2 separate regions of the Homo sapiens genome follow, and region 2 is linked to region 1. Evidence: fine-mapped expression QTL. Tissue or cell type: whole blood. Region 1 holds a variant in brackets; the other region holds the start of a gene. All regions are shown on one strand. Distances are from middle to middle.

Region 1 (8,174 bases):
CTGCTGCACCCAGGGCGACCCCTTCCCCATGGTCACCCAGCCCGAGGGCAGTGATGGGAGCCCTGCCCTCTACAGCTGCCCCACGCAGCCGGGCAGGGAGGCAGCGCTCGGGCCCGGCCACTTGGAGATGCTGCGGAGGACACAGTCCCTGCCCTTTGGTGGCCCCAGCCAGAACGGGCTGCCCAAGGGTAAATTGCTAGAAGGCCTGCCGTTTGGCACCGACGGGACCGGCAACATCCGAACGGGACCCTGGAAAAACGAAACTACTGTGTAGATGGGGGCAGAGGACACGGTGTTCCTGGAGGAGCTTCAGAGCAGAGTGGGGGGCCCATCTGCCACATGAGGTCACTGGGGGTACCGAAGTGACCCCGCCTTTCAGAAGCCGTTCACACCCCTGCCCCTTCCTTGTGATCACACCCCTGCCCCTTCCTTGTGATCACACCCCTGCCCCTTCCTTGTGATCACACCCCTGCCCCTTCCTTGTGAAAGACCTCAGCGGGGAAACGCTCCGGGCCACGCCCACTCCCCTTATCCCAATTCCGCGTGCTGGTCCCGCACACGGTCATCCGGTTTCTGTCCTGTGGTCTCCAGTCCTGGGGCACCCTAGAGGCAGAGCAGGGGATTCCATCAAAGGACCCACTGAGACCCCAGCATGGCCCTGCCCGAGATGCCCTGCTGCCCACGGAGTCCTGGCTTCCCCTGGTGTGGCCGGGCAGGGCCGAGATCGCAGGAGGGGGCTGCCCTGACCTTTCCCAGTGTTCAATGTGTGTGTCTTGCGTTCTACTCCGGGGGTGGCGGCGGCAGGTCTGTCCCCAGCATTCTCGCTCTGGGCAGAACCCTCGGGACCCTCCGCTGTCGTGTGTCTGAGCCACCCCTGCAGCTTCACAGGGCCCCTGCACACCTCTGCCCACTCAGTGTGCCCTGTCAGCCCTGTCCTTGTCGTAGCCCCAGCCCTGCAGGGCTGAGAGCACCACAGATGCTGGGGGCTGCTCTGGACTTTGGGGATGGCTGTCAGCCTCAGAGGGCCAATGGGGGGCTTTCACGGGCCCAAGGCTTGGGAAAATGCCCAGACATCCTTTAGTGAAGACTCGACTTCCAAAACCAGCCACCGCTGGGACTGGATTCCACTCCAGTATAGGCACTTAGCAACACGAAGGTTTATTCCAAAAAGAAAAGGGGCTGACAGACGGGAGATTCTCATGGACAAAATCCCTTTCCCTTTTTCTCGTCTCCATGAACATCTGGGTACCAAGCCCTGACTCAAAGGACAGATGTGGATGACAGCAAGACTTCTGTGAAAGCAAGTGGCCCGTCCCTAGGTGGGAGGGAGTCCAGAGGGTCATGGGTGTGAAACTGTGCACAGCTTTCCCTCCCTCCCTCTTCCTCCTTGTCTGTGACACATGTGCACCCACACACACACACACAAACACATGTGCATATCACACACATGCACACACACAAACACATGTGCATATCACACACGCGCACACACCCAAACACGTGCATATCACACACATGCACACACACAAACACGTGCATATCACACACATGCACACAAACGTGCATATCACACACACGCACACACACCCAAACACGTGCATATCACACACACGCACACACACAAACACGTGCATATCACACACAAACACACGTGCACACATACTTAACACACACTTGCACCTGCTGTGCACATGTGCACACACACGTAGTAGTGTGTTTTCCAGCCACCCACACACTGGGTTTGCATTGGAGATTGTTTCACCCTGCAAACGTCAACGTCAGCAGACTCGTCGGTGCGCTGTGCTATCCGGTTGGGAGGTCTCACCAGGAGCAGAGCCTCCCTAACGTGCACCTCCGAGAAGAGGGGTGTCGGGGAGTGTTCCCAGCACCTGCTCGGTGGAAGGGCTCTCCGGAGACTGGCACTCAGTATCTGAGTATGAGGAGCCTCACTTCCCGGGGTGTCGGTAAACTTGACCGTGACTCAGTAACCCACAGCGTGCTCCTCCCAGCAAACCCCGTGTGTCCTTACAGGTCGACCAGACGGGCCGTCGGAGGACCACCAGGTGGCTCTGCCTCTGCCTCACCTTCTCACCTGCTTCCATAGCTGATGTGAACCCGAATCCCCACGCTGTGCTGTGTACGCACTGTAGGTGCAGAACCGTCCACACAAAAATACAGTCTTGGCATTGTTTGTTCTTTGTGAGGCTGGTTAATAGCATCCCCGTGTGTTTTTCTCACCCTCGATGGGGTAGAGGGGCACCTGAATGTGTGGCCCCCGTCTGTGTCCTGGATCCTGGGGCAGGGCTGCTCTCCCTGGCCCCTGCAGCCCCTCATGAACTTTCCACCCTCAGTGCCCCCGGCTGAGCAGAGAGGCGTCCCACCATTCAACCAAAGAAAGTCAACATTGAACATTAAACCTCTGTGTGTTTCTATACTGACTTAGCCTCATGAGTCCACTTGGGACTGGTGTTGGGCCATATCCAATTGCACGTAACGTTTTGGAGCATAAACATCCACAGCCCAACCACCCTGAGGGGCTCCTGGCTCGGAGTCAGCTTCCACCAGACCATGAAGCCAGAGCCAGACCCTGCGTTCCGCACCTGACTTTCGTGCCACTTCCTTCCTTGTGTGTGCCCGTGTGTCTGCATGTCGGATGCAACGGAGCGTGGGTGCATGCCAGCCTGTGTGAGTGTGCTTGCCTGTGTGCCTCCGTGTCAGACGTGCTGGAGCGTGGGTGCATGCCGGCCTGTGCGAGTGTGCCCCTGTGCCTGCGTGTTGGATGCAATGGAGCGTGGGTGCATGCCGGCCTGTGTGAGTGTGCTTGCCCGTGTGCCTGCGTGTCAGACGCACTGGAGCGTGGGTGTATGCCGGCCTGTGCGAGTGTGCCCGTGTGCCTGCGTGTCGGATGCAATGGAGCGTGCGTGCATGCCGGCCTGTGTGAGCGTGCTTGCCCGTGTGCCTGTGTGTCGGATGCAATGGAGTGTGCGTGCATGCTGGCCTGTGCGAGTGTGCCTGTGTGCCTGTGTGTGTGTGAGTCCGTGTGCCTGCGTGTCGGATGCGATGGAGTGTGCGTGTATGCTGGCCTGTGTGAGTGTGCTTGCCTGTGTGCCTGTGTGTTTGTGAGTGGCTTGTGGGTTGTGTGGGTGTTGACGTGTTAGTGTGTGAGAGTGTGCGCCTGTGTGGTGTGTAGGTCCCTCTGTGGGAGTTGTGTGCACACATGCACGTGTGCTTGAGGGTAAGTGTGCATGTGTGTGCATGCTCTTTGGAGGAACACTGTGAGGCGGCCCCTCCGCCCTGTCTCCGTGCGGGTGTGTAACTACCACACGGCAACACTGTGGTGACTTTAGTCAGCTTAAAGGACTAGGAAGCAGAAGCTGCCTGTGCCTCCAGACCCTGACAGTTCTTCTCTGGAGCAGTCCTAGCTGAGGAGGCCTCCAGTCCTGGGAGACACACAGTGGCATCTGCCGCGTCGCCCACGAAGGCCCCAGACAGGGCTCAGATCTGGTCGGCCTGCTCTGTCTCTGAATGAGCCACCCCTGCAGGGGCTTTGGGCAGCTGAGGAGCCCCCACTGGTTCTGCGGGGAAGGGGCTGGGTTGGGGCCCGCACGTTCCACCTGCCTGAGCAGGACTGAGGAGGGATGCAGGCTGAATGGGAGCACTGGGCCCCTGGGAGGGCCTTGGCAGAAGGCAGCTCAGCAGCCACACGCTAGGCTGCAGTGTCGCCCATCAGTGACAGCAGCTGCAGGAAGCCTGTCTAGGGACCCTGGAAGGAGCTCAGGGCCCTGCACTGATGTGGTGAATGCCCCCCATGTGCAGAGACTGGCTGCAACGGGCACTTCCACACCTACCCAGTGCCCAGATGGTGCCTGACCGGTCCTGCCACTTGCTCCCTGACCCTTGGTGCTTGCATTTCTCGGGGGACGCTGTCGGGACCAGCATTGGCCTGAGCTGGAACAGTGGGTGTGTTCACTGTGCGGGGACTGTGGACCCTGCTCCTCCACGTCTCACGTGGACCCTGCTCCTCCGTGTCTCACGTGGACCCTGCTCCTCCGTGTCTCACGTGGACCCTGCTCCTCCGTGTCTCACGTGGATCCTGCTCCTCTGTGTCTCACTTCATCACGCTTCCCTTCCACTGCACTGCCAGGGTTTGTACCTGAGCCTAGAGGCTTCTGCAGAGCCTTTACTGCACAGGCACCTTCGG[C/G]CAGAAATTCTGCCTGTTGTATTCAAGACCAAGGACTGTTCTGTAGCCTTTGAGGTGGGTGGGGTGGGGGTACCTTGGGCAGATGGAGGCCGGCCCTGTGTCTGCAGGGGCAGCGTGTGCCCAGGGAGGCAGGGGACGGGGTAGGGGGAGGGAAAGGGTGAGCACCCCGTGAGGACAGACAAAGTGCTGTGAGGCCAGGTCAACGGTGGGGTGGAGGCGGGGCCTGGTGGGCATCTGGGGAGGCTACTGGGCACAGGGACAGAGAAGCCAATTCGGAGGGTCCCTGGGGCCAAGTCTGAGCAGGCATCTGAGTGCTGTGGTTGTTCAGGGCAGGCGGAGCAGGAGGGGCATAGGAGGGCCTGGCACACGTGAGAGGCCTGTCCCTCGGGCCACAGCTAGAAGATCAGTGTCTCCCAGTGAGACAGGTCAGGCTGCAAGTGGGCTCAGCAGCAAGACAAGCCCTTCATGCCCGCCGTGCTGGCTCCTCTGGGCCTGGAGGGAGGGCTGCTGGGTGAGCTGGGGCCCACCAGGGCAACTCCCAACACTGGCTGTCCAGGCCTCCTGGGGGCTGCAGGGCCAGTGCCTGAGCACAGACGTGGCTGCCCACAGACGGTCCTGCAAGGACTCAGGACCCCAGACCCCAGGCTGCATCCCCCCGGCCACAGATCTGCAGGCGGCCGACTTCCAGAGGACAAGCAGCACCGCTCAGGCCCAAGTGGGCGCCGACTTGGACCTCACACCTCTGTCCTGTGTCCCAGGAAATGACTGGGGTTGCCAGGGCCTGCCTTTCCTTCCCACTCCCATCCCAGGACGTGGGTACTGGGAAAACCACTGTTAAGAGGACACTCTTAAACTCACTCTAATTACTTCTTTTCTACATAAATATCAACAACTTCCCCTGTAATCGCAACAGACACCTTGCTCCCTACTCACAACTCCAACCACACCCAACATAGCCCTTCAGGGAGGCCTGCAGGTCAGAACCGGCAGCAGAGGCACCCAGAGCTCAAGTCCCTCCCTGCCAGCCGCCCCCCAGCCTCTCCCAGACAGGGTCACTGAACAAGCCACAGAGTGGTGCAGGGCTGACATCGGCCAGGGACAAAGCAGGTGAGTACCCATGTCTGCGCCCTGGCTCAGAGATTACTCCAAGTCCAGGTCCTAGAGGGGTGAATACCCCTGGTGTGGGATTGGCTGGTTTAGTACTCATGTCTCTGTCATGGTCCAGAAAGTACCCTTGGTCTAGGTCCTAGTGGAGTGAGTACCCTGGTGAGGGATAGCCTGGGTTAGTACCCATGTCTCTGCCCTGGTTCGGAGAGTACTCGTGGCCCACGTCTTCGTGGAGTGAGGAACTCTGGCACGTAGTGCCTCCCTGTTAGGGTTAATGCTCGTATTGGATTCATAGTGAGCTGTGTTGCTGGGTAAAATACTCGAGGTGACAGTAGCAGTCTGTGCTGCTGTAGGATGAGGACACATTTTCTGGGCTACTTTCTTGGTGCCACTGGTATGGGCTGAAATTTCACCCTCCGTGTGCCCAGGTGGCGGCGGTGGTGGTGCGTTTGCATGTGGTGGGCTGGAGCTGCGCCCGTGTGTTCTTCTGTGTGTTTGGGAGGCTGAGTTCTCGTGGTCTGAGTCGTCTCAATTGAGTACTAGGTCCTGTGTCACGTGGGCTGTGTATCTGTGGTCTGTGTCTCCTGGTAAACACTGTTTAAAATGAGTTCCGGGGTCTCTGCCTCCAAGGGAGTGCGGGACGCTGGCGTGGGCTGAGCTGCCAGGGTAAAGAATCCACTGCAGCACCTGTGGCTTCAGTGCCTCGGTGGGGTGGGGCCGATGGCCTGCAGGTGAGCAGTGTTAAAGGAAACATGGTTCAATGATGCTTGTTAAAACACGGCAGACTTCATTCGGGGCCACTGGGTCCCTGGGTGTGAGACAGCCTGGGCTGGTACCATAGGGGAGCTGGTCTCCAGGTCCCTGTTGGGGGGGTCTGGTCTCTGGGTCCCTGTGGGGGGGGTCTGGTCTCTGGGTCCCTGTGGTGGGGGGGGGTCTCTGGGTCCCTGTGGGGGCGGCTGGTCTCTGGGTCCCTGTGGGGGTGTCTGGTCTCTGGGTCCCTGTGGTGGGGGGGGTCTCTGGGTCCCTGTTGGGGGGTCTGGTCTCTGGGTCCCTGTAGGGGTTCTGGTCGCTGGGTCCCTGTAGGCGGGTCTGGTCTCTGGGTCCCTGTGGGGGGGTTCTGGTCTCTGGGTCCCTGTGGTGGGGGGGGGGTCTCTGGGTCCCTGTTGGGGGGTCTGGTCTCTGGGTCCCTGTGGGGGCGGCTGGTCTCTGGGTCCCTGTGGTGGGGGGGGTCTCTGGGTCCCTGTTGGGGGGTCTGGTCTCTGGGTCCCTGTGGGGGCGGCTGGTCTCTGGGTCCCTGTGGTGGGTCTGGTCTCTGGGTCCCTGTGGGGGGGTTCTGGTCTCTGGGTCCCTGTGGGGGCAGCTGGTCTCTGGGTCCCTGTGGGGGTTTCTGGTCTCTGGGTCCCTGTGGGGGGGTCTGGTCTCTGGGTCCCTGTGGTGGGGGGGGTCTCTGGGTCCCTGTGGGGGGGTCTGGTCTCTGGGTACCTGTGGGGGCAGCTGGTCTCTGGGTCCCTGTGGGGGGGTTCTGGTCTCTGGGTCCCTGTGGGGGCGGCTTGTCTCTGGGTCTCTGTGGGGGGGTCTGGTCTCTGGGTCCCTGTGGAGGCGGCTGGTCTCTGGGTCCCTGTAGGGGTTCTGGTCTCTGGGTCCCTGTGGGCGGGTCTGGTCTCTGGGTCTGTTGGGGGGGTCTGGTCTCTGGGTCCCTGTGGGGGGGGTCTGGTCTCTGGGTCCCTGTGGTGGGGGGGGGTCTCTGGGTCCCTGTGGGGGCGGCTGGTCTCTGGGTCCCTGTGGGGGTGTCTGGTCTCTGGGTCCCTGTGGTGGGGGGGGTCTCTGGGTCCCTGTTGGGGGGTCTGGTCTCTGGGTCCCTGTAGGGGTTCTGGTCGCTGGGTCCCTGTAGGCGGGTCTGGTCTCTGGGTCCCTGTGGGGGGGTTCTGGTCTCTGGGTCCCTGTGGGGGTGTCTGGTCTCTGGGTCCCTGTGGTGGGGGGGGTCTCTGGGTCCCTGTTGGGGGGTCTGGTCTCTGGGTCCCTGTAGGGGTTCTGGTCTCTGGGTCCCTGTGGGCGGGTCTGGTCTCTGGGTCCCTTTGGGGGGGTCCTGGTCTCTGGGTCCCTGTGGGGGCGGCTGGTCTCTGGGTCCCTGTGGGGGGTTCTGGTCTCTGGGTCCCTGTGGGGGCGGCTGATCTCTGGGTCCCTGTGGGGGGGTCTGGTCTCTGGGTCCCTGTTGGGGGGTCTGGTCTCTGGGTCTCTGTGGGGGTTCTGGTCTCTGGGTCCCTGGGGGGGCGGCTGGTCTCTGGGTCCCTGTGGGGGGTTCTGGTCTCTGGGTCCCTGTGGGGGCGGCTGGTCTCTGGGTCTCTGTGGGGGGGTCTGGTCTCTGGGTCCCTGTGGGCGGGTCTGGTCTCTGGGTCCCTGTGGAGGCGGCTGGTCTCTGGGTCCCTGTGGGCGGGTCTGGTCTCTGGGTCCCTGTTGGGGGGTCTGGTCTCTGGGTCCCTGTGGGGGGGTTCTGGTCTCTGGGTCCCTGTGGGGGCAACTGGTCTCTGGGTCCCTGTGAGAGGTTCTGGTCTCTGGGTCCCTGTGGGGGGGTCTGGTCTCTGGGTCCCTGTGGGGGGATCTGGTCTCTGGGTCCCTGTGGTGGGGGGGGTCTCTGGGTCCCTGTGGGGGGGTCTGGTCTCTGGGTACCTGTGGGGGCAGCTGGTCTCTGGGTCCCTGTGGGGGGGTTCTGGTCTCTGGGTCCCTGTGGGGGCGGCTTGTCTCTGGGTCTCTGTGGGGGGGTCTGGTCTCTGGGTCCCTGTGGAGGCGGCTGGTCTCTGGGTCCCTGTAGGGGTTCTGGTCTCTGGGTCCCTGTGGGCGGGTCTGGTCTCTGGGTCCCTGTTGGGGG
Region 2 (8,174 bases), 26 kb after region 1:
GAAACAGACTCACACCCGGGCACATTCGACCCAGCAGAAGCCAGGCTGGCAAAACGGAGGGTGAAGGGCACCTTCCCAACACCCGCCCCCGTGCCCGGCCATCGCCAGTGCGGGGAAAACAGGAACTTCATACATGCATAACCTAAGACCCGGCAACTCCACTCTAAAGATAGGCCAAACAGAAACACAGGCACCTGAAGAAAAGATGCCCCCGTAGCTTCGTTCCTAAGGCTGCAAATTGTAGAAGCCACCTGAGTGCCCACCAGCGCAGAAAGAGAACCTCCACTGTGGGGTATTGACGTCGTTGGAAAGAGAACCTCAACTGTGGGGTATTGACGTCATTGGAAAGAGAGCCTCAACTGTGGAGTATTGACGTCATTGGAAAGAGAACCTCAACTGTGGGGTATTGACGTCATTTGAAAGAGAACCTCAACTGTGGGGTATTGACGTCGTTGGAAAGAGAACCTCCACTGTGGGGTATTGACGTCGTTGGAAAGAGAACCTCCACTGTGGGGTATTGACGTCGTTGGAAAGAGAACCTCCACTGTGGGGTATTGACGTCGTTGGAAAGAGAACCTCCACTGTGGGGTATTGACGTCGTTGGAAAGAGAACCTCCACTGTGGGGTATTGACGTCGTTGGAAAGAGAACCTCCACTGTGGGGTATTGACGTCGTTGGAAAGAGAACCTCCACTGTGGGGTATTGACGTCGTTGGAAAGAGAACCTCCACTGTGGGGTATTGACGTCGTTGGAAAGAGAACCTCCACTGTGGGGTATTGACGTCGTTGGAAAGAGAACCTCCACTGTGGGGTATTGACGTCGTTGGAAAGAGAACCTCCACTGTGGGGTATTGACGTCGTTGGAAAGAGAACCTCAATTGTGGGGTATTGACGTCATTGGAAAGAGAGCCTCAACTGTGGAGTATTGATGTCATTGGAAAGAGAACCTCAACTGTGGAGTATTGCCATCATTGGAAAGAGAACCTCAACTGTGGGGTATTGACGTCGTTGGAAAGAGAACCTCAACTGTGGGGTATTGACGTCGTTGGAAAGAGAACCTCAACTGTGGGGTATTGATGTCGTTGGAAAGAGAACCTCCACTGTGGGGTATTGACGTAATTGGAAAGAGAACCTCAACTGTGGGGTATTGATGTCGTTGGAAAGAGAACCTCCACTGTGGGGTATTGACGTCATTGGAAAGAGAACCTCCACTGTGGGGTATTGACGTCATTGGAAAGAGAACCTCCACTGTGGCGTATTGACGTCGTTGGAAAGAGAATCTCCACTGTGGGGTATTGACGTCGTTGGAAAGAGAACCTCCACTGTGGGGTATTGATGTAATTTAATACAATTCAGTAACAATAATCAATAAATTACTACTACCCATAACAACATGGTTGAATCTCAGAGACACTGAGGAAAAATGCACGCACACACACACAAATACACACACACATACACACACACAAATAAACACACACACAAATACACACACATAGACACAAATACACACACATACACAAATACACACACACGAATACACACACAAATACACACACATACACAAATACACACAAATACACAAATACACACACATACACACAAATACACACACATACACACAAATACACATACACATACACACAGACACAGAAATACACACACATACACAAATACACACACAAATACACATACACACATACACACACAAATATACACACACATCCACACAAATACACATACACATACAGACACAGAAATACCCACACATACGCACACATATACACACAAATACACACACGCACAGAGGGACGGGGGTTCCGTCTGCTCCCAGCCGCATTGGTTCCCCCGTGGGGTGAGCCTGGCAGGACAGGGCCAGCCCAGCGCCCAGAGACAAAGTGAGGAGACCGTGTTTCCGCCAGAGCCACAGGGCAGCTCCCCGCAGAAGCCAGTCGTGGTCCACGGTTCCCGCGTGCCGGCTCCCAATCTCTAACAGGAGCACCGCCATTTACTTCCACATTTCCTTTTTTTCTTTACTAAATATCTGATTTATTAAAATTTACATGTGTATTTGTTGCAAAGTGTGATGAGGAGCCAACAGAAACTCGGGCATAAAAATAATTCATCGTCAGATACAATCTGGGCAAAAACCAGATGGCTATGATGCGTCTGAGGAAAAATGTCAGCACGAAGATCTCGGACTGTTAGAGAAGAATGTGTTTACGAATTCTTTAAACGACTGACAGTAGGTATCAAAACCATTTTGGCATTTAGCTTCCTAGATACATTTACAGGAGTGACTAACAATTTTACTTCAAAATGTGAGTATTTACATCACACCAGAAATGACATTATTTGCCATCATTTACATGTCTGGATTTTTTAAGAAACCTGGATGTTGACGTCAACATGTGTGAGTGATTTGGCAGCTTTTCAAAATTGTTTTAGGGAAAACGAGAGCCAAGGCCCTGAAGACCCCTGCTCCACCCGCCTCAGCACGCAGCCCAGTCCAGCTGAGCGCCGACTGTGGGAGACCGAGTGAGAAGGACAAGGCCGATCCTGACAGCGTCCGGGTGTGACAAGGGCCCGGTAACCCCCTCGGAGCAAGGTCTCAGGAGAAGCATCTGGGAGTCCTACCCTGGGCCCCTCATGGAGGAGGGAGGGTGGGCAGGGCCTGGGCAGGGAGGGAGGAACCAGGTTCCTCACTCCAGCCAGGAGCCACAGTTCAGGCTGTTGCCTCTAGCAGAGGGGAACGTCTGGTGGGAAAGGGCAGTGGGGTGGGGCAGAGGATGGGTAGAGGCCATGGAAGAGTTGGAAGAGGACGAAAGTGCCACCAAGTCATGGCCCTGGACCACGGACCTGATCGTGCAGCTGGGAAGCCCCTCAGAATTCCGACACCACCACAAGCATCCTCGGGAGGAAGCTGTGCCAGCACATGCTGGGCACACAGGGCTGGCACCGAGAGGCAGGAGGGCTTGATGAGGAGGCCGTTCCTTGTGGCTCACGGAGGGCTCTTGGCCGTTTCCGCGTGGCACCCAGAAGCTGCTCACCAGCTCTAGAAGACGTGGGGCGATGAATCCAGACCCTGGAGGAACTGCGCCCTCGTCCAGCATAACTGAGGTGCCAGGACACAGGACCGACATCGCACCCTCCACTTGGGTCAAAGCTTTATCACTGCAGGCGAGTGTGCGGGCGCCCGGGACAACTCGCAAAACGTCTGGAAGTTCCCACCACTCCCCAGAACAACAGAGACCAAAGCCCACAAATCTTTAAAGGAAAGCAGCAGGTGCGTAAAAGAAAGAGCCTGCGGCCCCTGCCCGAGGCCCCTCCCCACGTGCCCAGCCCTGAGCAGCAGCAGCGCTGAGTGACCCAGGTGTGGGAAATGCCTGCTGAGGGGTTTTAGGCCGCAACAGCCGAAGCTGACACGGCCGACTCCAGGAGCCTGTGAGTTCTGCATTTTACCAACCGCATGCACGTCTTTCCAGGAGTGCTTGCCCTATGGCTGCCCCCCAAATTATGGGGTTACCTTTGCCCCCTATTCAGTGTCTATATCCTCACCCCAAGCCCGTGAGGTGACCTGGGCACTCGGTGACAAAGTCCTGTGCTTGTGGGGTCCCTGGTGCCTTCCCTTTGGGGTCACGTCAGCCCGGCGTTCCCCCGGAGGCACAAGTCTGGGTGGCAGCTGAGAGGCGTCAGGGGCACATCCAGACCTGACAAAGGAGGCGGCCCCAGCCCTGCAGCAGAGGGCCCAGGAGCCCAGGGGCTCAGCTCCAATGTCCAGGTCTGAGCACCAGGGTGCAGCGGGATCAGGCTCCTGGAGCAGAGTCTGCCTGCCACTTCCGCCTCCTTCCAAGACAGGGACTGGGGCGCTGCAGGCCCTGTGGGGCCCACAGAGAGAGAGCTCAGGGACAGCTGGCTGAGGCCACCCTCTGTGAGACTCCTCCTCTCCAGCTCCAGCCCACTCCACCTTGGCTTGCTGCCCAAGCTTCCAAACACCCAAGGATGGGGGAGGCTGCACCTGACTGCTGACTCGGTGGACCAGGGTGGGCCCCAGGGTGGGCATTTTCAATAAGGTGGGGCTGCCTGGCTGGACGCAGGGAGTCTGCCCAGCACCTGCCCCACTCCCAGCCTCCGGCTTCAGTGCCCACCTGGCTCCCGGGGAGCTGAGCCCCTGAACTCCCTGCCAGGCCAGAGTGACAGCCCGGGTGACCGACCAGGGGACAGAGTGCTGGGAATTCACGTCCCTGAACACACTGCACCCTCCCACTCTGCGGTCAAAAGCCCTGCTGCTCCTTCAAGCCAGGAGCATGGATTAAGTACCTACTGTGTGCCTGGCCAGCCACACGGACGGGGAGCTGACAGCCGGGCCCTGAAGCCGCCCTCTCTCCTGTGGGAGTTCTGGGGGTGGCCGGGGAAGGTGAGATTCTCCTCCACCCTCCCTGCCTCTTGGCCGAGCTTGGGGCTATCCTGGCTCTTCTGACCGCGGCACTACCGTGGGCCGGGGTCACCCTGGCGCTGAAGAAAGCCCCGGGGGGCCTTTGGGGCAGGAAGAGGTCAAGAGCCCCAGGACCCCCCAGGGTCCCCCAGGACCGGGGAGGGTCGGGTGCCCAGTGGGTCTCTCCGATGCCTCCAGGTGGGGATGAGGCAGCGTTATTGCCCCACCCCCAACATCCCCGGGCCTCCGAAAGACCCTCGCTCAGGAGAGACCCCGGCCCAGCGACCGCCCCGCCCCCCACCCCGGGCCCCGCCCCCCACCCCGGGCCCCGCCCGGCCCTGCCCAACGCCGCTGCAGAGGCCACCCCGGGACTGCGGCAGCCCCGCCCGGCAGCAGCGGGGGTGGGACGGGGGCGGCGGGAGCCGGCGAGGGGGTCTGCCCGTCCGAGCTTTCCTGGGCGCCGGCTCCGCCCCTCGACCCTTGGGGCCCAGGTGGGGCGCAGACCCCGTGGCTCCCCGCGGAGGCCACACGCCTGGCTCCGCCCCCGGTGCCTCCCCCAGGAAGGAGCGACGTTCCCTAGGCGCCGGGTCCGGACAGCGCCGCGCAGCCCCCGCGCACCCCGCGCCCCCCGCGCCCCCCGGGCCCGCCCCGTATCCCTGACCGCGTCCCCTGGAGACACTGCGGCAGCGGCGGGCGGGCGGGGGCGGGCGAGGGCCGGGCGCGTCTCCATGGAGCCAGGGCGCGCGTAGCCGAGCCCAGCCCAGCCCAGCCGGAGGCCCCGGGGGCGGTGCGCGGCGCGGCCGCAGGATGCAGGCCATGGACCCGGCCGCGGCGGATCTTTACGAGGAGGACGGCAAAGACCTGGACTTCTACGACTTCGAGCCGCTGCCCACCCTCCCCGAGGACGAGGTGAGCCCCCGGCCCCACTGGGGGGCCCCTTCCGCCGCCGAGGGGTCCGCGGAGAGCGCCCGGGGGGAGGACCCGGGAGGGGCTGTGAGCTCCCGCCTCCCCAGGCGCCCTCCATGGCCGAGGGGTTCCCACCGCCGTTCTCAGCCCCCGCGTTAGGATTTTCACCCGGAGGGGACAGCACCCCCGAATGCGCACGGGACGGCGGCGGGTGGGCAGCCCCTGCAGAAGTTGGTGCGCGGTAGCTCCTGGTGGAAACCCTGGCGGGACAGTGTGGGGGCAGCAAGGAGGACGGAGGGGGGTCTGCTTACTCCCTGCCGGGCCCCAGGAGGCCAGCGGGGTGCAGAGCAGCAGAGTCCAATCAGGCGCCGCTCAGGAGCTGGGGGATGAGGTCCCCGGAGCTGAGGTTCAGGAGCGGGGGGTGGGGGGAGCGCTGGATGACTGCCCCCCGAGACTGAGAGCTGCTTCCTGCTCTCTGGTTTTCCGGGCCTTCACCCAAGACCCCCCTACCCCGCAAGGTGCAGAGGGGCTCTGCCTGCCATCTGCATACCCTGGCGCTTCTGCTCATGGACCGCCCACCCTACAGCACCGGCTGCCCAGACGCCACCTTGGCTGGGTCTGACCCTGTAGCTCAGCTCTGGCTTGGCTGGGATGGAGTGGACAAGCCAGGCCCGGAAGCATGAGAGGTGGCCCCCAGGGGATACAGCAGCTCCCAGAGGGACCCTCACCCTCCAGGGATCCGAGATCTGCCAAACCTCCAACAGGCAAGAGCCCAGACGCTGGGCGCCTGCGTCTCCGGGTGACAGCGTCGTCACCTGCAGCCATTAGTGGGATGTTGTGGCGCCCTCTCTTTAAAGCCGGCCAAGTAAGCCTGGAGCAGGGAATCCCGGCTGCAGCAGCCGCGGGCCTGACCCCCTCGCAGTCCCCACCTGCTGCCCCAGGGGAGTGGGCTCTGAAGGGACCGGGAGTTTCTGCTGTGGAAGCACCGTCCTTCTGGGAAGGTTCAGCCCCAGGAGGCCCTCGGCCCAGCCACCTAGAAACAGCTGAGGCTGTGCGGGGGTTGGCGATGCCCCCGCCCCCACCATGGCCTGGATTCGGTGCAGTTGAAGGCTGCAGAGAGGAGCAGCCAGGGGAGGCAATAAAGCTTCCAAGATCACCTCGGCTCTGACCGAGAGGGAGGGGCAGCCCGCAGCCTTCAGAAACGCCCCAGGACACATCCCAGGGTATCTGTTAGGAGGCGGCCCTGAGGACGCAGCTCTTCCCACAGCTCCTTCGTGCATCAGAGGCCTGAGCCTTGAGGGCCTCCCCGCTCCGCACACGGAGGCAGCAGCCGGTGCCACGCACACAACACGCCGCGCCAGGCGCGAGCCCACTTGGAGCCACAGGCTGTCTTTCTGCACACTCCCCACTCCCGCTCCCCACCCCCACGCACACACCAGTGTCCTCGGGCCGGCCGGACAGCTCCCGGCCGGCACAGTACTGGGGTGGGTGGCTCCATCCTGTGACGTCCACCAAGGCCTCCAGGTGAACTGTCATCCCACCGAGTTTGCAGCGTGCAGTGGGAACGTTCAGGTGGGCCCTTCGCAGACACTCCTGGAAAGCATCGGGTGGTCCCTGGCCCAACCCTGTGCCCAGTACTGAGCCCAACACACCCCATGTCTCAGAATTCCCCTGGCGTTCAGACTCTGCTTCCCACACGTGTTTGGCTTGGAAGGTTCTGAAATCTCCATCGGGGCACCTGACTTGCATGGGAAAACCGTCCTGGGTGAGGTGAGGGCACGGTGAGGTTGCATCATCATCCCAGAATGCCGGAAGGCCAAGGGTGCAGGGCAGCTGCCGGGAAAGCACGGTGGCGCCAGGCCCAGGACATATGCAGGCTTCATAAGATGTAGGAACTCACTCATTCTACAGCTAATTATAATGGCTGGCTCCATGATGGGGTCAAGAAATAGACCCCTATGGACACCCACCGGAGCCCCTGGAATGTCCCTCCCTTGACATGGTCCCAAAGAAAATCCAAATGGCTGCTGAACATGTGAAAAGATGTTTGCTCATTGCAATCAGGAAAATGCAAAATACACCCCCACGAATGCCTTCCCAAGACCGCCAGGCTGGCAAGAACTGAAGAGCGGACAGCGGCTTGTGCTGGCAAGGACGGCGCAGCAGCTCTCCCTCGCGCCAGTGGGAGGACAAATGGAGCAGCCTCTTTGGAAAACAGCCCAGCATTCGCTGGTGAAGTAGAAGGCACCAGTGCCCTGTGTCCCAGCAACTTCACTATGGTGTGGGCCCCAGAGACACGTGGCCGTGCGTGTGTGAGAACACTCTCAGCTGGAACCTACCAGAGCATCAGCAAGTGGGCCAGCAGGTCCTGGAGGAAGTGACCAGGTTGGATCCCAGTACAGGCAAAGAACCACCAGTACACGATAGACAGGGAGATGTTCTGTGGGGGTGATGCAAGGAGGGCTTCCTGGAGGTGTCCTGCCCGGGATTCCCATGAGATTTCAGTCACTGTGGATGGGGGTATGGGATCTGAGGCAGAACAGTGCAATCCAGGCAGAACAGCGGCTGCAGAAGAGGCACACAGTCCAGGCGGCTGGAGTCGATGGATGGGCAATGCTGGCTGCCCCATGGGAATTCAGATGAGACGAAGAGGGTGCACCGGTTTGGGTGCCAGAGCAGGACGTGTCCCGGGTCCCTGAGAGGCAGGCAGCACTATCATCCCTCCCAGAGTTCAGCAACTGCCTCCCAGAACCTCCTGTGTGCCGGTGTCAGGCTGGGCTCAGAATCTGAGGCTGGACAGGATGCAGTTGCTCCCTGGAGGGGCACACAGCTGG

What was found. PIP is the estimated chance that this variant, and not a neighbour inherited with it, causes the effect.
Region 2: it holds the start of KNDC1, and the variant in region 1 is fine-mapped to the expression of KNDC1 in whole blood (INTERVAL, PIP above 0.99).

Annotation. Positions count from the first base shown.
Region 1 is chr10:133,129,238-133,137,411 of GRCh38, forward strand. ADGRA1 (adhesion G protein-coupled receptor A1) reads left to right here. Exons shown (of 7, transcript NM_001083909.3): 7 at 1-2,438. The coding sequence ends at 274. Among named protein-coding and RNA genes, the nearest start is that of KNDC1, 27 kb to the right of the region's middle. The variant C/G (reference allele first, on the strand shown) is at 4,202.
Region 2 is chr10:133,155,227-133,163,400 of GRCh38, forward strand. It overlaps KNDC1 (kinase non-catalytic C-lobe domain containing 1), which reads left to right and starts at 4,993. Exons shown (of 30, transcript NM_152643.8): 1 at 4,993-5,343. The coding sequence starts at 5,242. RefSeq lists enhancers at 5,364-5,953, 5,954-6,544.